Homo sapiens: one gene and its partners. The protein of the gene in region 1 purifies or fractionates together with the protein of each later gene. This does not show direct contact. Each region holds a gene or a part of one and is shown on either strand. Other genes may lie near its edges. The genes, in order: PDCD10, CNN2, HABP4, PPP2R1B, PPME1, IVNS1ABP and RNFT1.

Region 1 (3,500 bases):
GAAAGGGAGGGAGGGAAAACAGTAGGGAAGGAAGATCCTTTGGTCAAATAATAATGATTTAGAGGAAGTGCTATTTAACAATTGTATAACTTAAACAAGGTTCTTCTGTCCGTTACCTTCTACATCATCAGCTGCCATACGAAGAAGGGACTCCGTGAAGTTAACTTCCACGCTTTTTTTCTCTAAAATTTTCATAATGATGTCTTGTGTGAGACCTGGATTTTCTTTTTCAGCCTATAATAAAGAGAAAACTAGTTTTGAAATACAGATAAGGAATCAACATTTTAAAGCCAAAGTTTAATTGTTTAGAATCTGTTGGGAGCGTCTTACACTGATAACTTTTAAGGGCAGAAATCTTTGTAAAGCAGGTGTCATGATAGCATTCACTAAGGCTTTGTTAGAGCTTGTGCACCCGACTCTTTACTATGACTAAGGTTCCATTTTCCATTTGAACAGAAAGAACTTAGTATTTTCTACTCTTCTTTATACTCTTTTGCAATTGAACTAATAACAAAGATAGAATTAAGGATTATATATGTTTTAGTAATCTATCAATTGCTATTCTCATTACTTTAAATATCTTGAGAATTTAAGCTTTTTTTAATGTGCTAATACTGCAACTCAAGGATCAAGCAATAACTCATCTGACTAGTGTTTTGCATATTCTTTCCATTTATATTAAGAGAATGCCAGGAAAAACAAAAAAGGATTTATTTTGAAGGTTTTACTGAACCTATATAATAATACCTTAACTATTTTCCCACACAATGATTTTCATTTCCTATTTTATTTTTGTAGCAAGAATATTTCCTTCACTGGTTTCTAGAACATCATGAAACCTTTTACTACCTTTTGAGCTTGTTTCATTGAGTTTGCATTGGTTCTATGTTACTTAGACTCCCCAAGACACTAAAATTTTCTAGCCATTTCAAGACTGGGCATAGAGTTCTGAGTTTACCAAAGCCAGAGTTAATCTTCAGATTTCAGTTTTTCCCAGTAAATTCTGTAATCACACTTGATGTTTGTTTCCTGTAGGATGCCTGCCAATTTTAATCATTATGCTGATGATTTTCTTTCCTTTTTGCCCTAATATTAAACAGCAAAATAGAAACACAATTTACGATCTTAATCAGATGGCAATCTTTTTGTTTCCTTATGTGTCAAGCACACTTAACCTCCGCCTCTTCAATTCCATTGATTATCACTGCAGATACAGTTTTCTTCTCTTCCTATTGCTCTTTCCATTATAACATCTTGTTTCTCATTAGATCTCAAGTATCAAAAACTGAAGGGTTGTGGGATGAAATGAGAAAAGAAAATACACGCATTTATTCCAATCTTCGGATCATTTTAAATGCTGTCAGATACTATTCAGGAAAATCATTTTGATAGATGATTAATAACAATAAACTGTGTTTGACTGAATCCTGTTTCTTTTACAGCCTATGTTGACTTTTCCTTCCATGGATATATATTTTAAAAAGAATCTACTTTTTAGCCAGGCATGGTGGGGTGTGGCTGTGGTCCCAGCTACTTGGTAGGTTGAGATGGGAGGACTGCTTGAGCCCAGGAGTTCGTGGCTGCAGCGAGCTATGATCATGCCACTGCACTCCAGCCTATGATACAGAATAAGACCTCGTATTAAAAACAAAACAAAACAAAAAAAACTGTGTTTTTTAAAAAAGGAGTTTCCTTTATAAGATGTCCAAATATGGCTTAAGATGTGTTGTTATAGCATTAATGCGGTGAACTGCCACAAAATTACATATAATGTAGCATTCAGTAACAATACTTTATCTTATCTAGCAATAAATCTTCCTACATAATGAATTATCTTGGGGAGAGGGGGAACATTCTCTATGTGCTTGCAGGGGACAGAAAAAGAAAAGCATATCTCTGATTAAGTTATAATAAAGTACTGAAAGGTTAAAATGCTGAAAGTCTGAGAATAAAGTTTTCAATACCAAGCTGGTCTGGGACCCCAAAATGCTAAAGCTAGAGCATTACAAAAGTCTCACAAAGGTCCCTAACTTTCTCAGTTTTCAGTGTCCTTAGTGCCAAAAGATACACCTCACAGTGCTGTTTATTAAATACTTAGGTCTAAACAACTTAATAAGTATAGTGTCCTAACTACCTAGCCTTTAAAAAAATAATACACATAAATTGAAAAAAACAATTTTTACTCTGTTCTTAAATAACTATTGTCACTTATTACTGGGATGTGTGTGCCTACTGGGCACTTCATAATTTCTCAAACATTGGTCTTAGATTGGACCTTGCCCCTCTCATTTCCTCTTGCAGATATATTTTTTTCTGGTACTTCTGTTAGATCATAGCACTGGCCAAAAAGTCCAGCTTCTCAATGATCTAACACCAATGAAAGCAGTGAAGGACAATCCAATATGCTAAATTGCAATCCATCTCAAGCTAGGAGTCCATGCAGTGTCAAACAGATGTTGAGTATCACTGTACACCTTCACAATTTTAAAATACTTCGTGGCACCCCTCTGAATTTGCTATGGGCCACCAGGTACCTCAGTACATAGTTTGGAAGGAGTAGTCTCAGTACCTCCTGGCTAAAAACCTGGTTAAGCTAATTCTTATTTCAAAAGCTTGAATTTACCAAATGGCTCTGACTGACAAAATGAATAAATATGGTCTTAAATCAGGGAGACAATCTACAACTCTTAGGTTTTCCCTCAGAATACAACATGAACCCTGTAGGGTGTCTAATCTTTGTAAAGAATCCAGCTGTAAGAAAAAAATAAACCGAAGGGCAGCAACATACACTCTTGTGGATCAGTGATTCTCAGTCTGGAAGACGGACAACCTATCGGAACCTCTCATAGAGGATAAGGGGGAGAGGGAATCAAGTAGAATATAGCTGACCCTTGAAGAACTGGTTTTAACTGCTCAGGTCCATTTACATGCAGATACTTTTCAATAAATATATAGGAAAAATTTTTGGAGATCAGCAACAATTTGAAAAAACTTATAGACAAACTGAGTAGCCTATAAGTAGTGAAAAAAATAATAAAAACACATGTTATGAATGCATAAAATATAGTTATCCACTAGTCTATTTTAGTATTTACTATAAAATAGATACAAATTATTAAAAAGTTAAAATTTATCAAAACTCACACGCAAACAGACTGTACATGGTGTTATTTGCAGTTAAAAGAAATATAAACAAATATACAGATGCAATATTAAATCATAACTGCACAAAATTAACTGTAGTACACGTGTATATGTAATAAGTTTGAAGCCACCTCCTGTTGCTATTGCAGTCAGTTCAAGTATTAGTAAGTATATGATTAAAACGCCATGTGACTCTAATCAACTCCATGTGAACAGTTCATCTCTCCAGCAAACTGCACATCCCAGTACAAAGTAATACCTCCCAGCCCTCACATATTTTTCTCATCGTGTTTAGTGCAATACTTTAAACATGGGATAATACCATGGGACCCGACAAAGTGCCACTAGTGATGTTG
Region 2 (3,500 bases), on another chromosome or scaffold:
TAGAGGGGCAGGGAGAGGAGTCGGGGGCACCCGGGCGAGCCCCACCTGGCTGGCACACTTGTTCGTGCCCATCTGGAGGCTGATGGTCGAGTGGTCCATGGGGGGCAGGATATGGTTCTTGGGGTCATAGAGATGCCTTCTCGTGCCGTAGGCAGTCATGCCCGACTGGCTGGCGCATTTGTTGGTGCCCATCTGCAGGGAGGTTCGTGGGAGAGGTCAGACTGCACCCAACAAGCTTCCGGTCCCTCCCTGAAATTGAGGGACCACAGGGCTCCATGCCGCTGTCCCCCAATGCTGCTGTCCCCCAACACCGTGGTCCCCCAATGCCGTGGTCCCTGGGGCTGGGGGAGCTGTCGCCCACCTGCAGCCCGATGACGCACTGGCCAGCCTTCATGGTGGCATCGTCGAAATTCCGCTCCTGCTTCTCCGAGTACTTGACGCCAATGTCCACCCCGCTCTGCAGCCCCTTAGTCTTGGCCTGGGTGAGGGAAAGGGGCCGGGAGTACCAGCAGAGGGCAGCCAGGGACCCTAGATCTAGGCCCTGGGGGCGGGACAGAGACCAGGCCGCGGCCTGTCACCTCTGCCTGCCGCGCAGAGCCCCCACAGGCACATCTCTCGGGTGTCTGGGACTCCACACACTCCACACACCCATCATACAGCTGTTTCAGTTTTTTATTTTTATTTTTGAGATGGAGTCTGGCTCTGTCACCCAGGCTGGAGTGCAGTGGTGTGATCTCCGCTCACTGCAACCCCCTCCTCCCAGGTTCAAGCAATTCTCCTGCCTCAGCCTCCCAAGTAGCTAGGATTACAGGCGTGTGCCACCACGCCAGGCTAATTTTTGTATTTTTAGTAGAGACGGGGTTTCACCATGTTGCCAGGCTGGTCTTGAACTCCTGGCCTCAAGTTATCCACCCGCCTCAACCTCCAAAAGTGCTGGGATTACAGGCGTGAGCCACCGCGCCCAGCCCATGGGGCTGCTTCATCCCAGCGTGCCTTGTCTTAGGCAACAGCTCAGCTTTCCAGGGCTCAGGCCAAGAATTCTGGGGATGGGGACGTGGTTTTCGCTTCCTCTCTCTCACCTTCCACCACCTCCTCTGACCCAATCCCCGGGCACCATGGCCAGGCCATTGGCTCTGCCCCTCACTGGGATGTCTGCGCCCGGCTCCTCCCTGACCACCATTCCCCACGTGAGGTTACTGGGAGCCACAGGGGGCATCTGAAAACACCATTTGGAGCAGTTACCCCAGGAGAAAACCAGCTCCCGCTTCCTCTAACAGCCCAGCCAATTCCAATGTCAAGACCTTGCTGTTCCTTCTACGTGAGACACCATGTCACAAACACACACTCCCATTCCATTCTACACCAGACACCGTGTCCCACCCACGCTCCCGGTCTACACCAGACACCGTGTCCCACCCACGCTCCCCGTCTACACCAGACACCGTCCCACCCACGCTCCCCGTCTACACCAGACACCGTGTCCCACCCACGCTCCCCGTCTACACCAGACACCGTGTCCCACCCACGCTCCCGGTATACACCAGACACCGTCCCACCCACGCTCCCGGTCTACACCAGACACCGTGTCCCACCCACGCTCCCGGTCTACACCAGACACCGTCCCACCCACGCTCCCGGTCTACACCAGACACCGTGTCCCACCCACGCTCCCGGTCTACACCAGACACCGTCCCACCCACGCTCCCGGTCTACACCAGACACCGTGTCCCACCCACGCTTACCGTCTACACCAGACACCGTGTCCCACCCATGCTCCCGGTCTACACCAGACACCGTCCCACCCACGCTCCCGGTCTACACCAGACAATGTGTCCCACCCACGCTCCCGGTCTACACCAGACACCGTCCCACCCACGCTCCCGGTCTACACCAGACACCGTGTCCCACCCACGCTCCCGGTCTACACCAGACACCGTCCCACCCACGCTCCCCGTCTACACCAGACACCGTGTCCCACCCACGCTGCCGGTCTACACCAGACACCGTCCCACCCACGCTCCCCGTCTACACCAGACACCGTGTCCCACCCACGCTGCCGGTCTACACCAGACACCGTCCCACCCACGCTCCCGGTCTACACCAGACACCGTGTCCCACCCACGCTGCCGGTCTACACCAGACACCGTCCCACCCACGCTCCCCGTCTACACCAGACACCGTGTCCCACCCACGCTCCCGGTCTACACCAGACACCGTCCCACCCACGCTCCCGGTCTACACCAGACACCGTGTCCCACCCACGCTCCCGGTCTACACCAGACACCGTGTCCCACCCACGCTCCCGGTCTACACCAGACACCGTCCCACCCACGCTCCCGGTCTACACCAGACACCGTGTCCCACCCACGCTTACCGTCTACACCAGACACCGTGTCCCACCCACGCTCCCGGTCTACACCAGACACCGTCCCACCCACGCTCCCGGTCTACACCAGACAATGTGTCCCACCCACGCTCCCGGTCTACACCAGACACCGTCCCACCCACGCTCCCGGTCTACACCAGACACCGTGTCCCACCCACGCTCCCGGTCTACACCAGACACCGTCCCACCCACGCTCCCCGTCTACACCAGACACCGTGTCCCACCCACGCTGCCGGTCTACACCAGACACCGTCCCACCCACGCTCCCCGTCTACACCAGACACCGTGTCCCACCCACGCTCCCGGTCTACACCAGACACCGTCCCACCCACGCTCCCGGTCTACACCAGACACCGTGTCCCACCCACGCTGCCGGTCTACACCAGACACCGTCCCACCCACGCTCCCCGTCTACACCAGACACCGTGTCCCACCCACGCTCCCGGTCTACACCAGACACCGTCCCACCCACGCTCCCCGTCTACACCAGACACCGTGTCCCACCCACGCTCCCGGTCTACACCAGACACCGTGTCCCACCCACGCTCCCGGTCTACACCAGACACTGTCCCACCCACGCTCCCGGTCTACACCACTGTCCCACCCACGCTCCCGGTCTGGGTTTGAAGATCACTAGACACTCAACATTCGTCTGATTCTTCTCCTTCAAGGCATTTCTCCCAGTTCAGAGCTTATTTATTACTTTTGTTATGATTATTTTTTGAGAGAGTCTTGCTCTGTTGCCCAGGCTGGAGAGCAGTGGTGTGGTCATAGCTCACTGCAACCTCTTAACTCCTGGGCTCAGCCTCCCGAGTAGCTGGGATTACAGGCATGCACCACCACGCCCAGGTAATTTTTGTTTTCTTAGTAGAGATGGGGTTTCACCATGTTGGCCAGGCTGGTCTCGAACTCCTGGTGTCAAGCAATTCTCCAACCTCGGCCTCCCAAAGTGCTGGGATTACAGGTGTGAGCCACTGCGCCCGGCCAGAGCTTACATATAATGCATAATACAATGCTGTGTTCACTTTTGCATGCCTCCGCCATCAGACTGAACTGCATAAGGGGTAGACCATGTCCTTCCTGTTCACCAAGGAATCTGAAGTACCTGGCACCT
Region 3 (3,500 bases), on another chromosome or scaffold:
CCGCCTCCCGGGTTCAAGCAATTCTCCTGCTTCAGCCTCCCGAGTAGCTGGGATTACAGGGATTACAGGCGTGTGCCACCACACCCAGCTAATTTTTGTATTTTTAGTAGAGACGGGGTTTCACCATGTTGGTCAGGCTGGTCTTGAACACCTGACCTCATGATCCACCTGCCTCGGCCTCCCAAAGTGCTGGGATTATAGGTGTGAGCCACCGCGCCCGGCCTGTTTTTTCCCCTTAAACACTTTTGAGATATAATTCTCGTACTATAGCACTCAAATCTCTAAGTATATAGGCCAGGTGTGGTGGTTCAGATCTGTAATCCCAACACTTTGGGAGGCAGAGGCAGGAGGATAGCTTGAGGCCAGGAGTTCAAGACCAGCATGGGCTACATGGAGAGACCCCGTCTCTACAAAATGGTTGTAAAAATTAGCTGGGCCTGATGGCTCGTACCTGTAGTCCCAGCTACTCTCAGGAAGCTGAGGTGGGAGGATCCTTGGGCTCAGGAGGTTGAAGGTATGGTGAGCCATCATCATGCCACTGTACTCCAGCCTGGCCAACAGAGTGAAACCCAGCCTGTATCAAACAAATAAATGAGTAAACGACTGAATGCATGGATGGATGGTTTGGGGTATGTTACATTATTAATTTTTTAAAATTGCAGTAAAAATAACATAAAAATTGCCATTTTTACCATTTTAATATATATAATTTAATGGCATCAGTAACATTCATATTGTGTGTAACCATCACCACCATCCATCTCTAGAACTTTTTTTTTTTTTTTGAGATGGAATCTCACTCTGTTGTCCAGGCTGGAGTGCAGTGGTGCGATCTCGGCTCACTGCAACCTCCACCTCCCGGGTTCAAGCGATTCTCCTGCCTCAGCCTCCTGAGTAGCTGGGACTACAGGCACATTCCACTACACCCGGCTAATTTTTCTGGTATTTTTTAGTAGAGACGGGGTTTCACCGTATTGGCCAGGCTGGTCTCGAACTCCTGACCTCATGATCCGCCTGCCTCAGCCTCCCAAAGTGCTAGGATTACAGGCTTGAGCCACTGTGCCTGGCCTTGTAGAACTTTTTCATCACAAACAGAAACTCTATATCCATTTAACACTAACTCCCCATTTCTCCTCAGCATGTAGTAATCTCTATTTTACTCGTGTTTATGAATTTGCCTATTCTAGGTGCCTCATCTAAGTGGAATCGTTCAATGTTCCTTTTGCACCTGGCTTATTTTAACTATTAGCATCAAGTTTTCAGCTTCATTCATGTTGTAGCATGTGCCAGTCTTCATTTCTGTTTTTCTTTTTTTGTGTGTATTTTTGTGATGATTTTCAAATCTACGATTTTAATCCTTTTAAAGTGTACAATTCAGTGGCATTTAGTACATTCAGAGTGTTATGCAACCATCACCATGATCTGGCTCCAGAAGGTTGTTATCATCCCAAAAGGAAACCCCATGCCCATTCAGCAGTCACTCCCTATCCTCCCTCCCTGCAGCCCTGGCCACCACTGACCTGCCTCCTGTCTGTGTGAATCTGGCTCCTCTGAATATTTCATGTAAATGGAATCATACACAGAAGTCTTTTCTGCCTGGTTTATTTCACTTGCATCATTTTTTCAAGGTTTGTTCATGTCGTAATGTGTATTAATACTTTGTTTCTTTTTATTGCCAGATAATATTCCAAAAAATGTGCCATATTTGGTTTATCCACTCATTAGTTAATAGACATTTAGGTTGTGTCCACTTTTTGGCTATTATGAATAGCACTGCAGTGAACACTTGGGTTTAAGTTTTCATGTGGATGTGTGTTTTCATTTCTCTTGGGTATAAACCCAGGAGTGAAATTTCCGGGTCAGAGGCTAACTCAGCTTAGATTTTTGAGGAACCGCCAGACTGCTTTCCAAAGAGGCTACACCATTTCACATTCCCACTGGCAGTGTATGTGGGTTCCAGTTTCTCCACATCCTCCCCAACGCTTGTCAAATGTCGTTTTGGTTCTAACCATCCCACTGGGTGTGGACTGGTGCAGCTCTGTGGTTTTGACTTGTCTTTCTCTAATAGCTAATGATGTGCAACATCTTACTGCCTATTTGTATATCTTCTCTGGAAAAATGTTCACTCAGATCCTTGCCTTTTTTGGGGGGAGGGTGGTCATTTGTCTCAACTAAAGAGGACTTGTATCTAGAATTCATAAAGCATTCTTTTTTTTTTTTTTAAAGAGACAGTGTCTCATTCTGTTGCCCAAGGTGGAACACAGTGGCCATTCACACGTGTGATCATAGCTCACTGCAGCCTCAGATGCCTGGCCTCAAGCGATCCTCCCACCTCAGCCCCCTGAGTAGCTAGGACTATCGGCATGAGCCACCACGCTTGGCTGTTCATAAAGAATTCTTTATGTATTCTAGATACAAGTCCCTTGTGAGATATATTATTTGTAAATATTTTATCCCATTTTGTGGACTGTCTTTTTACTTTCTTGATGGTGTCCTTTGTAGTATAAAAGTATCTGATGATGTTCAATGTATGTACTTTTGTTGCTTGTTTTTTTGGTGTCATGTGGAAGAAACCATTGCCCAGTCCAGGGTTAAGAAAGTTTCTGCCTAGGTTTTCTGCTAAGAGTTTTATATTTTAGCTCTTGTATTTATGGTGTGAGGTAGGTCTAACTTCATTCTTTCTTTTGGTGTGTGTGGATATCCAGTTGCCCAAGCACCGTTTGTTGAAAATACTTTTCATTCTCCATTGAATTGTCTTTGGCACCACGGTTGGAAAAAAAAAATCAGTTGACCGTAAATGTGAGGGTTTATTTCTGGACTCTGAATTCTTTGCTCTCAATCTATATTTCTGTCTTTTGTTTTCTTTTTAAAACTCATTAAAGAGGATATTTGCAAAAGTATGCATTCATGAGCCACTGCTTTAAAACTTGTTTATGGTTTCCTGTATTTTATTTCAACCCATTGTCCATAATTACCTCATTTTGTCTGTCATGCTGTCTGGAAGGGAGTGCCAGTGGTGAAGTGTGATGTTAATGTCATCAGGATGGTGATGTTCCCATTTTTCAAAGATTGATTTGAACACAGATAGGAAGTATCTTCTGTTGGCAGTGATGACATAAAATGTTGAAAATGAAATATGGAAGCTTGTGAGTCAAAGATTTCCTTACCTTATTTGCATTTGAAATGCAGTACCACAAAAATATGTTGAATTAATGGTTATAACTTTTTCTTTATAAAGTAGACATTTTAGTACCATCAAAAAGTATTCTTTATGATTATATATCTCTTTATAGAGTTCCTGAGTTGGAGGTAGAAGAAGAAACCCAAGTTCAAGAGATGACTTTAGATGAGTGGAAAAATCTTCAAGAACAGACCAGACCAAAGCCTGAGTTTAACATCCGGAAACCAGAATCCACTGTTCCTTCCAAAGCCGTGGTGATTCACAAGTCAAAATACAGAGATGATGTAAGCATTGCATTTCGTATGTAGAGGTAATCTTT
Region 4 (3,500 bases), on another chromosome or scaffold:
ATTTGGAAGCAGCAGCACGTCGTACCATTGGTGTGTCATCTGAGCACAAGGAACGGAATTGCCTGCAACATAAAACAATGAAGGTATTTCCCATCAAATAACACTGAATAAACCTGCCCCCCATACACACAGACAGACTTTTAGAGGTTTTATCTTACAATAATCAGTGACTAAGCTTCTACTTATAGAAGTAACAAAAATAAAACATATTCAACTGGATAATAAAAAATGACATCATAGGCCAGGCATGGTGCCTCACACCTGTAATCAAAGCACTTTGGGAGGCCCAGGTAGGAGGACTGCTTGAGGCCAGGAATTGAAAGCAGACTGGGCAACATAGCAAGACCCTATCTATATGCCAAAAATATTTTTGTTGTTGTTTGTCGGGGGCTCAAGTGAACTCCCACCTCAGCCTTCTGAGTAGCTAGAAATACAGGCGGGTCCCACCATGCCCAGCTAATTTTTTTCTTTTTAGTAGAGACAAGGTCTCACTATGTTGCTCAAGCTGGTCTTGAACTCCTGAGTTCAAGCAATCCTCCCACCTCAGCCTCTCAAAGTGCTGGGATTACAAGCATGAGCCACTGCATCCAGCCAGAAATTTTTTTTAAAAATTAGCCAGGCGCAGTAGTGTATGTCGGTAGTCCTAGCTACTTGGAGGCTGAGGCTGGAGGATCACTTAAGCACAAGAGTTCAAGGTTGCAGTGAGCTATGATTGTGCCACCGCACTCCAGCCTAGACAACAGAGCAAGACCTTATCTCTTAAAAAAAAAAAAGAAAGATGTCATAAATCCTACTATCCTAGTATCAGCCACTCATTGGTAACAAGGTACTATGTAAATTGTCAGCTACAAGTCCCCAGTAATCCCAAATAACTCATAGCTTACTACCTGATTTCTGCTTTAACAAGGCAAAAAAATACCATGGCTTACTGTCTGATTTCTGCTTTAACAGCATTTGATGCCCTGGGATAGCAAACGCTGAACAAACCACATGCAGATGTGCGAGAGGTGAACCAATCCCCACTTGCTAAGCGTTTCACCAGAGGTACAAAATAAGCTTCCAGAGCAACAGGAGTATGCTCCTGGGAGATCTGTCTCAGGGACTCCACAGCCTTGTCACGAACAACAGTCTCTTCCACAGTTGCCAGATTTTCCAAAGGAGGCTGAATGGATTAAAAAGGAAAACCAGAGAAGAAAACTTATTGAATCAGGTTAGAAACAGATAATCACCTTTTAAAGTGACTGAAGGGAGGTGGTACACGTAACCAGAATGTTAGCTGCATCATACCAAATGGTTACTTTCAGCTCACACAGTGATAACATATGGTGCGGCCAACCCAAAGACACGACTTCTGTAGAAAAGCCAAGATCTCGTGTCCCAGATGGCAATTCCCAGATGGTGTCTACAAATGACACAGTGTAAAAGACTTGACACAATATTAATATTACTGTGAGTTGAATCACTAGGTTTAAAAGATACATAGCCAAATTCAGACAGGATCATGTATATTTCCTCAAGAGTAAGTACAAAACTATGACCAATGTTAGGCACCACAAATACAGGATAACAGCTTGTCAGGTCACTGAGTCCACAGCCTTTTCAGTATCTTTCCACCATTCCCAGAGGTGCAAGCAACCCTTATCCACCATCTCCATCCCATCCTTTTATCCAACCTATAAAATGCTGAATGCAAAATTGCTTTTTTCAGAACACATTCAGCAACTTTCCATTAGCCATAGGGCAGAAAGGAGTTTCTGACAGAACAATCAAGTGAAAACTACAGAGACTGGCCAGGCACGGTGGCTCACACCTGTAATCCCAGCCGTCGGGAGGCCGAGGTGGGCAGATCACTTGAGGTCAGGAGCTCGAGACCAGCCTGGCCAACATGGTGGAACCCTGTCTCTACAAAAAATACAAAAATTAGCCAGACATGGTGGCACACGCCTGTAAACCCAGCTTACTCAGGAGGCTGAGGCATGAGAATCACTTGAACCCGGGAGGCAGAGGTTGCAGTGAGCCGAGATTGTGCCACTGTACTTGAGCCTGGGTGACAGAGTGAGGCTCTTGTCTCAAAAAAAAAAGGTAAAGTACAGAGATGGTAGGACACCTTGCTTACAGCTTTAGAAATAAAAGAAGCCAAATGGGGTGGATGGTCTGGATTAAGAGCAGTAACTGAATATGGCATGGCCTAGTAAAAAGTGTAAACAGGCTGGCTCTCTGAACCTCTGCCTTACTGAGTTTGCATGTAGTCCAGGTAGATTCTACACATGCCATGAGCTACAGATTTTAAAGCATAAAACCCACATATAGAACTAACCAAGAGTGAAACAGAAGCATAATGAGTTAAAGAAAAGAAGTGTGTCTAATAATATATTTTAAAAATTGTTTGATACACACAGGTAGACAGTATTCAGCTTTCCTAGAAGGTATTTCAGAAACTCATTGAAAAGATACTGTTTCTCACTTGCCAATGCATTTCATGATCTGTCCCCTGCCTACTGTAACCCCCTCTCGTGCAGTACCACTGGATAATAGCTATCATTACTACAGGATGAGGCCATGCTCCTGAGAATTGCTTATGAGTGGTCTCTTGATTTGAACTCTGCCTGGCCCTTGATGACCACTCTGCCTACCCAGCCTCAACACTTCACACTCCAGCAGTTCTTTTTTTTTTTTTTTTTTAAGAGACAGGGTCTTGCTCTGTTGCCCAGGCTGAAGTGCAGTGGCACAATCATGGCTCAGTGCGGCCTCAGACTCCTCGTCCTTCTGCCTCAGCGTCCCGAATAGCTAGGACTCAGACACATGACATCATGCCCAGCTATTTTTTTTTAAGTGTTGGGGTCTCACTATGTTGCCCAGGCTGATCTTGAACTCCTGGCCTCAAGCAATCCTCCTGCTGCTTTGGCCTCCCAAGGCAAGGATTACAGGTGTGAGCCACCACACCCAGCCACACTCCGGCAGTTTTGAACCCAGCCTGTTTCATGCTTCCAAGCCTCTGAAACTCATTTTTTCAATACATTATTATTGGTATATTCTAGCATTGAGGACACAGAAGAAACAAGGCAGACAAGGTTCCTCACTCTAGTGGCATTTACATTCTAATGGAGTAAGACAACAATCAATCAAGAAAATAAGTAGATGGTGATGAGTACTCTATAGAAAAAAGGAGTAGGATGATGTAGTAAGGGATGACTGTGAGGCTATTTTAAGTTGAGTGGTTGGGGAAAACCTCCCTGAGGAGATGCATTGAAGTTGATCCCTGAATGACAAGGAGCCAGCCACAGAAAGCTTGAAAGAGCTTTTCATTAGAGGGAAGACCTAGGGCAAAGGTCCTAAGGGAATAATGAGCTTGGTTAGTTCAAAAAACAGAAAGATGACCAATGTGAATGGAAGAGGTTATCAAGGCCTTTTGCAGTCTGTTCCCTGCCTACTGTCACCTCTTCTCATGCAGTACCACTGGGCATATGATAATCCTACAGAGGCGGGTCATAAAAAGCCTT
Region 5 (3,500 bases), on another chromosome or scaffold:
CTGGCCAGCTGCAGTGGCTCACACCTATAATCTTCGCACTCTGGGAGGCCAAGGCAGGTGGATCACTTGAGGTCAGGAGCTTGAGACCAGCCTGGCCAAAATGGTGAAACTCCATCTCTACTAAAAATACAAAAATTAGCTGGGCGTGGTGGTGCATGCCTGTAATCCCACTACTGGGGTGGGTGAGGCCCGGAACTGCTTCAACCTGGGAGGTAGAGGTTGCAGTGAGCCGAGATTGGTCCCACCGCACTCCAGCCTGGGCAACAGAGTGAGACTCCAATTCAAAAAAAAAAAAAAAAAAAAAACCCACAAACAAAAAACTGATCAGTAGTCAGAATATCTCTTTTCACAGTATCATACACCTATACAGTACTTTATAATTTTTAAACACATTGCCTCATTTTAACTCTTATAACTGAGACATAGGTAGTAGTATTATAATCTTCATTTTTGGATGGATTTTTTTTTAAACAAATTAAAGCTCAGGAAAGGGAAATACTTGCCCATAATCATATAGTGTGTTAGGAGTAGAGGCGGATGTCCAACTTGGGTCGGACTCTAAAGCTCATGCTTTCTCCGTTATACCTCACTATCTCAGGATGTTAACTGCCCTATCACCCTTTCTTCAGAAAAGGGTCCAGGGGTATAATTTCTTGATAACTTACCTTGCATCTGGCCAATGGTCAGATCTTTATCCAATCTATCAACACCTAGAAAACAAGAGAATTCATTGTGAAACAGATTTTGCTGTTCACGTATTAAGTAAAAAGTGTTACAAAGTTTTAAATATGATGACATTCTCCATTCATGTTTATACCAATCCTAACTCCCAGAGCATACTCTCACCACCAGATAAAACTTTTCAGGTTGAGATTCCCCTATAATTACTATGTTAAACTGGTTCTGAAAACAAGGTTTTACTATTTTAATTCTCATAATAATCAGAATATCCTTATACCACTGCATCTAGCTCTAGACTAAGAAGGACTTGAGCTTGACCAAGTAGACAGGCCAGGCCAGAATTAGGTCATCCTTTATGCTTAGATGAATGCTTATGCTTAGTTAGGTTTAGAGACTGGGTGTGGGGAGGAGAAAAGGCATAGATGAATGAGGAAGGTACTCTACTTTGGATGTCACTACTCATTTGGTGAGAAGTTTTAATGAGGTCATATTGAGATGACAATATACCAACACTGCTATGGACTGAGTTGTGTCCCCCTAAAACTCATGTTGAAGCCCCAATTCCCAATGTGACTGTATTTGGAACTAGGGCCTATAAGGACGTAACCTCAGGTCATGAGGGCAGAGCTCTGACATGATAGGATGAACGTCCCTAATTAATATCCTTAAGAGAAGAGACACCAGAGAGCTCACATTCACTCTTTCTCGGCCATGTGAGGGCACAGAGAGAAGGCAAGCCAGGAAGACAGCCCTCACCACAACCTGACCATGCTGGCACCCTGATCTCAGACTTCCAGCCTCCAGAACTGTGAGAAAATAAATTTCTGTTGTTTAAGCCACTCAGTCTATGATATTTGGTTATGGCAGCCTGAGCTGACTAATATATGCACATATACACTTACCAGCCAAGAGCAGCAATTTAGGAATGGGACAACTAAGAAAGAGATTGGATAAGCCTCGGAACCAGCCGTCCCAGTATTTTTCTGTTTTTGCCAGTTCAATTCTCCAGGTGTATGGATGGTCTTTCTTGGTCTGGAGGAATAAGAGCAAGTTCTGAGTCTCCGAGGGCAACCCCTGGAGGAACAGGATTAAAAACTAGATCCCTGGGAAAAGGAAAGGGAAGGAAACTAGCACTTATTAAGGACCTACTAAGTCCTAGACATTTTAATATACATTCAATCCTTCCAACAGTCTTGTTGTATGGGTCACTGTTAATATTCATTTTAAGATAATTACAAGTTTACTTTTTATTGCTATTAGTTTCTGTGAATTTAGGAAACTTTCTTAAGATCACAAAGCTAGTAAGTGGTAGTGCCAAGATTAAGCCTTTCTTATACTTGGTTGGCAAAAGGATGTTTCATCAAAAGAATAACTACAAAGAACATACTGCAGTATGAAAAAATGCTTATAATATAAGCAAGAAACAGATTACAACATGTCATCTAAGTTAGGATTACTACTGGAAAAATGTGGTATAGTAAAGTACTAAAAAGGAAAACTGAAAATAGGTTGATTTGTCAGTAGAGCATTTTTTCTTATATTTTATGATAATGATATAATGTTCCTGCAATAGTAATTTTGAAAGGAAATATGAGACAAATATGACAAAATGTCAACATTTATTAAATCTTTATTGTAGATAAGCACAGAGTATGCAATCAAATATTGGCTGAAAAAATAAATAATTCTCTATATTTTTCTGTACCATTGAAATATTTGAAACATTATAATTGAAATAAATATACTGAATCAACCACAATATGAAAATCTAAAAGTGAACATGAGATAGTAACATATTATCTTAAAGATCACTGGATGCTTAAGATGTCCATACTACCCAAAGTAATCCACAGATTCAATATAATCTCTATCAAAATTCCCATGGCTTTTTTTTTTAGGAAATAAAAAAAATCACCTTAAAATTCATATGGAATCTCATAGACACTGACTAGCCAAAACAATTTTGAAGAAGAACAAAATTGGAGAACTCACACTCCCCAATTACAAAGCTGCAGTAATTGAAACAGCTTAGTACTGCCGTAAAGACAAATAGACCAGTGGAATAGAATAGAGAGCCCAAAAATAAACCTTCACATAAATAGTCAAATGATTTTTGACAAGACTGCCAAGACCACTCAATGGGGAAAGAACAGTCTCTTCAACAAACAGTACTGGGATAACCAAACAGATATGCATATTCCAAAGTGAAGCTGGGGCCTTATCCCATATCCAAAAATTAACTCAAATGGATTAAAGACCTAGTAAGACTAAGACTATAAAACTCCTAGAAGAAAACATGGAGGAAAAGCTGGACAGTAGACTTGGTAATGATTTCTTGGATATGACACCAAAAAGCAGTGAACAAAAGCAAAAATAGACAAATGGTACTATGTGTATGGAATGGGAGAAAATCTTTGCAAATCATATATCTTATAATGGATTAATATTCAGAATATATAAAGGACTCCTACAATTCAGCAACTAAAAACATCGAGTAACCTGATTAAAAAATGGTCAAAGGGCTTGAATAGACATTTCTCTAGAGGTGATACAGAAGTGGCCAATAAGCATATGAAACGATGCTTAACATCACTAATCAATAAATAAATGCACAGCAACACCACAATGAGATACCACCTCACCCCCATTAGGATGACTACTATCAAAAAAGAGAAAAATAAGTGTTGGTGAGGATGTGGAGAATTCGGAAGGAACCCTTGTGTACTGAGTTGTAAAATAGTTCAACCAATAAGAAAAACATCAAGGCAGTTCCTCAAAATATTAAAAACAGAACTACTGTATGATCCAGGAATCCCACT
Region 6 (3,500 bases), on another chromosome or scaffold:
ACCACCATGACTGCCTAATTTTTACATTTTTTGTAGAGACAGGATTTCACTATGTTTCCCAGACTGGTCTCAAACTCCTGGGCTCAAGCAATCTTCTTGCCTTGGCCTCCCTATTACTGTTCTTTATTTTATTTTATTTTTTTAAGATGGAGTCTCTCTGTTGCCCAGGCTGGAGTACAGTGGCACAATCTCAGCTGACTGCAACCTTTGCCTCCCAAGCAATTCTCCTGCCTCAGCCCCCACAAGTAGCTGGGATTACAGGCGCCCGCCACCATGCCTGGCTAAATTTTGTATTTTTAGTAGAGATAGGGTTTCACCATGTTGGCCAGGCTGGTCTTGAACTCCTGACCTCAAATGATCCACCTGTCTCGGCCTCCCAAAGTGCTGGGATTACAGGTGTGAGCCATAGCGCCCAGCCTATCACTGTTTTTTAATTATGCATTTTGTGTAGTCATTAGTCAGTTGTTTATAAGTAATGGTAAAATGCAAAAAAGTTGTAAGTTCCCATTTATATTTATATAATCTGATGAGATAAGTGATTTAGAATATATGAAAGAAAGGAACAGAATATAAGTTCATCTTTTTAAATCACTGTATATGTTTCAAAACATTTATAAAAATAATTTCGTAGATACAGTGACAAGACTAATCAGACTTTTTAAGTTTGTGTACTAGGCAAGGGAGGAAGACATTAGGCAATTTTCTGCATATAAATCTTGATTATATATAATTTTGAAGACTAGAAGCAAATTGGGGGCCCTTTAAGACAACTGAAAAAGGCTAGGATTAGGATAAGTAACAGTTTTTCTCATTTGTGGGTAAAGGAATGACAGGAGCCCAAATCCAAGGAAACCTATATGTACTGGCTATTTCACCCTTTCAGGCTTTTAGATTACTTATTATATGGGTTTGGGCAGGATGGAGTTTCGTTTCCTTCCCTTCCCTTCCCTTCAGAATGAATTTGCTTAATGGGCATGGGAACCTGGCCAAAATTGTCGAGATAGCTGCTACTGTTTGAATCCTTTAAAAGTCTTATGACCAAAGTATTAGGGAACAAAGACTTGGACATTCAACACAGGTGTTGTTTCAGCTAAGTTTTTGTGTGATGAAATTTTTATGTGTTGTTTATAGGATGGAATTTGAGAATAAAGAGACTGTATTACTCTTTAGCATTATATTTTTAAAACCATCAGTTGCAAGTAAAATAACTCAGCTTTCTTTTCATCATCTAGCCAAATTTATAAGGAAAAATGATTCCCAATGGATATTTGATGTTTGAGGATGAAAATTTTATTGAGTCTTCTGTTGCCAAATTAAATGCCCTGAGGAAAAGTGGCCAGTTCTGTGATGTTCGACTTCAGGTATTTAAAACTTAATTCAAAATTTATAGAATTTTTTATTACTAAAAGCCATAAGTTCTTAGATTTGCTTATTTCTTTTTCATAGGCATTTAATGAAATGATTTTTTAAAAGAATACTGAGAAATGTAAGATAAAGGAATCTGATATAGTAATTAGCTAGAGAAGCACATAATCCACAATACTTATAATTATAATTCTTCATAATTTCAGGTCTGTGGCCATGAAATGTTAGCACACAGAGCAGTGCTAGCTTGCTGCAGTCCCTATTTATTTGAAATCTTTAATAGTGATAGTGATCCTCATGGAATTTCTCACGTTAAATTTGATGATCTCAATCCAGAAGCTGTTGAAGTCTTGTTGAATTATGCCTACACTGCTCAGTAAGTACATTTGAAGTAAACCATATAATTAGGGAATATCTTCAGAAAATTCCAAGTCTTGCTACATATATTTAAATTAAGTGTGTTTTAAGGCTTTGGTATCATAAGTAACTTTTTTTTTAAATAGGTTGAAAGCAGATAAGGAATTGGTAAAAGATGTTTATTCTGCAGCAAAAAAGCTGAAGATGGATCGAGTAAAGCAGGTAGAGTATCAGAAGTAAATAAAATCATTTATGGAGTCTTATTTTGTGTGATTGCAATGCTGAATTTGTCATAAAACATCTTGTTAGTTTCAAGGACTTGAACATGTCCCTTTTTTCCCTCAGAGTAGTCAATATGTTATTTTAACTGTTTGGCTATAATAATGTAGCAAGATCACACTTCTTCTCAGATAATTTGGGCTGAAGTCTGACCCTTTCAGCAATCTTCTCTGGTAGGGTGGCTATGTCAGCCTTTGATAGCATGAATTAAAATTAATATTTTTCTTAAGAGTTAATCACATAACTTATATCCTCAATTCTGTGTTCTCCTAAACTTCCTGTGCTCTCTAAAAGTATTCCTTCTAGAATTTAATGCCAGTAAAAAGTACTTTTGGAAAACAGGCATTTAATCCCCTAATGCATGGGGGTCAGTAAACTTAAGGCCTACTGGCCAGCTGCCTATTTTTATAAAGTTTTATTCAAACACAGCCATGTGTGTTCATTTACATATGGTCTACACTGCTTTCCAGCTACAGTGACGGAATTGAGCAGTTGTGACAAACAGAATGGCCTACAAGCCTAAAATGCTTTTACTATCTGGCCCTTTAAGAAAAAGTTTGATTTGCTAGCCCTTCTTCTAATACCACTCCTTTGTTCAAAAATCCTTCCTTAATTTACAGTACATATCCCTGCATTTAGTTTCTAGATTTTCCCTTATATAGTTGCTGTCTTTCCAAAACTATTTCCTAGTTATCTTTTCTCCAACCAAATTAAATTGTTTGCAGCATCTTCTCTACTTCTGTCTGCATTCAACATCAACATCATCTCTCCTGTAGAGCCCAGTTCAGATACTGCGTTTCATGAAGCCTTACCAAATTATTCTACTTGAAAATACTTATGTGAACTTACATAGCATTTCAATTTGTTGTACCTCTCCTTAAACTAAAACTTACATATCTGTATGGCATAATTAGATGTTTATCATTTGTATACGTGTTATTACCACTATTAACATTTGTTGTATTAAGACAGTGATTTTTGATTCTTTGTATCTTCACATAGTCTTTACCACACTGAACATTAAATATTTGTTGAATAAAAGATATGTAAGTGTTGGCACTCATATATTTCTTTTCCAAGGTTTGTGGTGATTATTTACTGTCTAGAATGGATGTTACCAGCTGCATCTCTTACCGAAATTTTGCAAGTTGTATGGGAGACTCCCGTTTGTTGAATAAGGTTGATGCTTATATTCAGGAGCATTTGTTACAAATTTCTGAAGAGGAGGAGTTTCTTAAGCTTCCAAGGCTAAAGGTAAGGAGTAAAGTCTATAAACAGATATATACTATCTAGTTCCAGGCGTGGAATCTTGGTCTGTGTTTCAAGCAAGTGAGTAATGATTATGAAATAATACATTGAAATTATATTGTTATTCTTAGCAGCGTAATGGGTTTCTCCCTACCAGTTTGTTTACTTTGTTTTTGATTCAGTAATCAAATTCCTTACAAATTCCTGGTTCCTTACAAATTCCTGGTTCCTTACAAATTAGAGTAAATGTA
Region 7 (3,500 bases), on another chromosome or scaffold:
AAATTATTCGAAATTATAAAAAGCATTTAGTGCTAAACATAAAAAAGTTTTACGGAGAAACTGCAACTGTAAATGTCGCTTTGGTAGAATAACTACTGTCAAAACTAACTGAACAAAAATGCAATTATTTGAATTTTCTTCTCTTCTAATGTCCTAATAACAAGTTACTCGTCTCTAAGATTTTAACCTCCTCACCAGATTCAGAACTTAGTCATTAACTAGATGTGATGTCAATAACCCTCAGTGAAATTTGGAGAAATCAAAATGTTACAAATGAAACCTGCTTTCTGTAGAAATGATGGGGAAGAGGTAACTAAAGAGATGTAAGAACACCCAAGTCAGTCACGGTCATGAGGGTAAAGCATGACTTAACATAGCTGAAGTTATCTAAACTTCTTGTACTAAAACGTCTCAGGCTAACAACATCAAAATCAAAGTAAAACTCAAAGGATAAAGATATTAAAAATTGAGGTTTTTTGAAACTGGTAATAAAGATTTCAGAAATAAGTCAGGATACTGTTAGATGATCTTGGTGTCAATTTCCCTTCAGTAAGGTGTCATTTAGCAAAGTACATTTGCAGATAATTATGCTGACAAGCTTTTAAGACGTTACTCATCTGGCATCTTGGAGACTCCCTCTCCAGATAGTAACTGCCATTTCCCTGGTAAAGGAGACTTGAACAAATCCAAGTATTGATGACTGATATCCTCTCTGTAGTTTGTCTCAGAGAAAGAATATCAGGGTATTTTCTTGAGAGTATTTCGGCACAAATCTTACAAGACCAATTATAGTAAAATGGTTGATGCTCACATAATCATCAGTTGAACTGACTTGGACAAAGCTGAACTCTCTGAATTTTATTATGTCTTGTCTAGAGAAACAAGCTTGCATAGGATGTAGCAAAGTTTGTTTCTACATTGCTAACTCTATCTTAGGGAAAAGGCCCTGGCCAGTTAGTCTCGTTTACTTTGTAGACATAATTCTTTTTTTATTTTTACGGTATATTATTCGGTTGGCATTCTTTTAAGTCAGTCTCCTTGGGCCCTGATGAAATGACTGCAAAATTGAGAATCAAACCCTGAAGTCTGCTGACCACACATAGGTACTAGGAACCTTTCAGGCTACTAAGTGGTAAATTAGGGTTCTCTATGACATCCTTTCACTGCAATTTGCAACATCAATAGAATCACACAATAATGTTATAAATGACACCAGAGACTCAATTAATTGTTAAATTTCATGCCATGAACGTATTTATGCACATATAATTGAGCAATGGGGAAATCTGCTCCAGTAAGAAAACTGCAAGAGACATGATTTTTGGCAGTGAGCTTTCTAAACAATAAATTACAATGGAAGGATTTTCACAGGTGAATAAGGAGTTAATAGGAACAAACAAAGCCCCCATTTGTGGATTAAAAAAGAGGAACACAATTTCATAAGATTGTTAAGGGTTTACAAGCCTTAAAAATGTCCAGTGGATTGAAGAGGCAAGAGACAAGTTCAAATATATAAGCACTGCAACAATTAGCAGGTGGTTGTCAATGTGTGATTCAAGAATCTGATCACAGAGATAAAACTCCTAAATTATTATAGCCCCAAGTGCCAAAGTACTAGAAAATAATCAAAGTAAAAGAAAAGGATCATCTATTTATGAAATCCATTCTTGTAAAACTGCTGAACTAAAAAAATTTTTGCAGTGAAGAAAGGTGAAGGTGTTTTTCTTAACTGATAAAAAGTACTTACTGGTTGTGTAAAAAATATTCGTAAAACCTGTCTGAAAGTTCTCAGATGCCCAAAAAATTCCAAAAGCTGAAAAGAGAAATAAGAGATCATTTATTAATTCAAACAGTCCTATTTGCTAAACCCAAAAACCAAAGCTGAAATCCCATAACATCAAATCCTCATATTAACTTAATGTTCATTATATGTCACATCTAATCATTTTGTGCTGAGTATTTTATTCAATTTATAGATTTGAGCCATCTCAGCAAGCTGAAGTACATTTAAACACCTAGAGTAACAATTTGATCAAGACAAATACAACTATGTCAAAGTCAAAGCAATTTTATCTGATTCACCTGTTTTTAACATTTAGATTTTAAAGTTTCATAAAGTGATTATTAGGTTGAGGGGTGCAGGCATGGAGAGAACAGGACAAGATACTCTACTAGTTTAAGAATTATGTGTATGACAATGTTACTGTTGAGGATGGGTATGTTCTATTCCACTTGTTTTCCCTACTTAGATAATCCACGCTATGTGAAGGTCGACTCCCCTTCCCTCCAGTGAAACCTGAGGACCGCTGGATTAAGATAGTCTATTTCCGTTTCTCCATTTCTAAACAAATATAGAACCTGCTATTACTTCAAACTAGTGATATGAAGATAAACTATAAAACTGTTAAAAGAGGAAAACAGTAGTATGTATCAGTAATCATTAATGTGAATCATGCAGTGACAAGATTTGTAATGTTACCTACTTTTAATATGAGGTAGAGTAAAGCCAGCAGTATCCCAAGACTCCATCTAGTTACGTTACCAAACTCCCCATAGCTTATAAGGTAGCGAAACCAAACTGGTATGGGAACAAAAGTTCGGTAGTATTGACACAATTCTTCTAAAAGCATATACCAGTAACCCTAAAAAATAAGAAGAAAACAAATAGAGCTACCCAAACTACTTAACTACATAGCACAAACAATATTAGACTGAGAACACTGAGTATATTATACAATAATATAAATAACTATAAAATTAATCTTCATAATGATTATGACTGAACCTCAAGCTGGTTCTCACATATTACAGTCACTGAGTGGCCTGCTTTGAAAGAATTTCTAGGTTGGACGCAGTGGCTCCCAGCACTTTGGGATGGGCAGATCACCTGAGGTCAGGAGTTCGAGACCAGCTGGCCAACATGGTGAAACCCCGTCTCTACTAAAAATACAAAAATTAACTGGGTGTGGTGGTGGGCACCTGTAATCCCAGCTACTCAGGAGGCTGAGGCAGGAGAACTGCCTGAACCCAGGAGGCGGAGGTTGCAGTGAGCCAAGATCACACCACTGCACTCCAGCCTGGGCAACAGAGCGAGAGACAATCTCAAAACAAAACAAAACCAAAAAAAAAGATACAATGAGAATGTTTTATGTATACTGCAAGTAAAACCTATGTGAGTATGTTTTTGCTGATTATAAGAATTTAAAAGTTTTTAGTGCATATGGGAAACCACTGAATAATTGTACATAGTCAACTGTCAATTGATAATGCCCTGGAGAACAGAAGTACACATCTAAATAGTTTCCCACATATGATGTGGGGACTGATTTTAAAATTATTCTGAAGCAAATATAATTCTGATTTTATCCAAATAGGTTAATAATCAGGTTCAAGTGCCTGAACAAATGGTTGCTAAGCTGAAATAATACAGATAATTAAGCTAGTTAGCAAACTGAAAAACTGCAAAAGGAGGATTCATTTAAACAAAGACTAAATAGCAT

The links.
Region 2: the proteins of PDCD10 (region 1) and CNN2 fractionate together in Homo sapiens (co-fractionation; one large-scale study listed by BioGRID). This does not show direct contact.
Region 3: the proteins of PDCD10 (region 1) and HABP4 purify together in Homo sapiens (affinity purification with mass spectrometry; one large-scale study listed by BioGRID and IntAct). This does not show direct contact.
Region 4: the proteins of PDCD10 (region 1) and PPP2R1B purify together in Homo sapiens (affinity purification with mass spectrometry; one large-scale study listed by BioGRID and IntAct). This does not show direct contact.
Region 5: the proteins of PDCD10 (region 1) and PPME1 fractionate together in Homo sapiens (co-fractionation; one large-scale study listed by BioGRID). This does not show direct contact.
Region 6: the proteins of PDCD10 (region 1) and IVNS1ABP fractionate together in Homo sapiens (co-fractionation; one large-scale study listed by BioGRID). This does not show direct contact.
Region 7: the proteins of PDCD10 (region 1) and RNFT1 purify together in Homo sapiens (affinity purification with western blotting, with the first as the bait; one study listed by BioGRID). This does not show direct contact.

Annotation. Positions count from the first base shown.
Region 1 is NC_000003.12:167,696,893-167,700,392, forward strand, and holds part of PDCD10 (programmed cell death protein 10), read right to left. Parts: intron 235-3,500; coding exon 117-234; intron 1-116. UniProt on the Homo sapiens protein: Promotes cell proliferation. Modulates apoptotic pathways. Increases mitogen-activated protein kinase activity and STK26 activity. Important for cell migration, and for normal structure and assembly of the Golgi complex.
Region 2 is NC_000019.10:1,033,108-1,036,607, reverse strand, and holds part of CNN2 (calponin-2), read right to left. Parts: intron 542-3,500; coding exon of another isoform or gene 479-541; coding exon 362-478; intron 193-361; coding exon 46-192; intron 1-45. UniProt on the Homo sapiens protein: Thin filament-associated protein that is implicated in the regulation and modulation of smooth muscle contraction. It is capable of binding to actin, calmodulin and tropomyosin. The interaction of calponin with actin inhibits the actomyosin Mg-ATPase activity.
Region 3 is NC_000009.12:96,481,169-96,484,668, forward strand, and holds part of HABP4 (intracellular hyaluronan-binding protein 4), read left to right. Parts: intron 1-3,293; coding exon 3,294-3,465; coding exon of another isoform or gene 3,466-3,489; exon of another isoform or gene 3,490-3,491; intron 3,492-3,500. UniProt on the Homo sapiens protein: Ribosome-binding protein that promotes ribosome hibernation, a process during which ribosomes are stabilized in an inactive state and preserved from proteasomal degradation.
Region 4 is NC_000011.10:111,759,890-111,763,389, forward strand, and holds part of PPP2R1B (serine/threonine-protein phosphatase 2A 65 kDa regulatory subunit A beta isoform), read right to left. Parts: intron 1,163-3,500; coding exon 930-1,162; intron 63-929; coding exon 1-62. UniProt on the Homo sapiens protein: The PR65 subunit of protein phosphatase 2A serves as a scaffolding molecule to coordinate the assembly of the catalytic subunit and a variable regulatory B subunit.
Region 5 is NC_000011.10:74,244,289-74,247,788, reverse strand, and holds part of PPME1 (protein phosphatase methylesterase 1), read right to left. Parts: exon of another isoform or gene 2,294-3,500; intron 1,756-2,293; coding exon of another isoform or gene 1,714-1,755; coding exon 1,584-1,713; intron 711-1,583; coding exon 666-710; intron 1-665. UniProt on the Homo sapiens protein: Demethylates proteins that have been reversibly carboxymethylated. Demethylates PPP2CB (in vitro) and PPP2CA. Binding to PPP2CA displaces the manganese ion and inactivates the enzyme.
Region 6 is NC_000001.11:185,307,244-185,310,743, reverse strand, and holds part of IVNS1ABP (influenza virus NS1A-binding protein), read left to right. Parts: intron 1-1,232; 5' UTR 1,233-1,250; coding exon 1,251-1,361; intron 1,362-1,571; coding exon 1,572-1,741; intron 1,742-1,868; coding exon 1,869-1,944; intron 1,945-3,081; coding exon 3,082-3,255; intron 3,256-3,500. UniProt on the Homo sapiens protein: Involved in many cell functions, including pre-mRNA splicing, the aryl hydrocarbon receptor (AHR) pathway, F-actin organization and protein ubiquitination.
Region 7 is NC_000017.11:59,954,741-59,958,240, forward strand, and holds part of RNFT1 (E3 ubiquitin-protein ligase RNFT1), read right to left. Parts: intron 2,643-3,500; coding exon 2,484-2,642; intron 1,814-2,483; coding exon 1,748-1,813; intron 1-1,747. UniProt on the Homo sapiens protein: E3 ubiquitin-protein ligase that acts in the endoplasmic reticulum (ER)-associated degradation (ERAD) pathway, which targets misfolded proteins that accumulate in the endoplasmic reticulum (ER) for ubiquitination and subsequent proteasome-mediated degradation.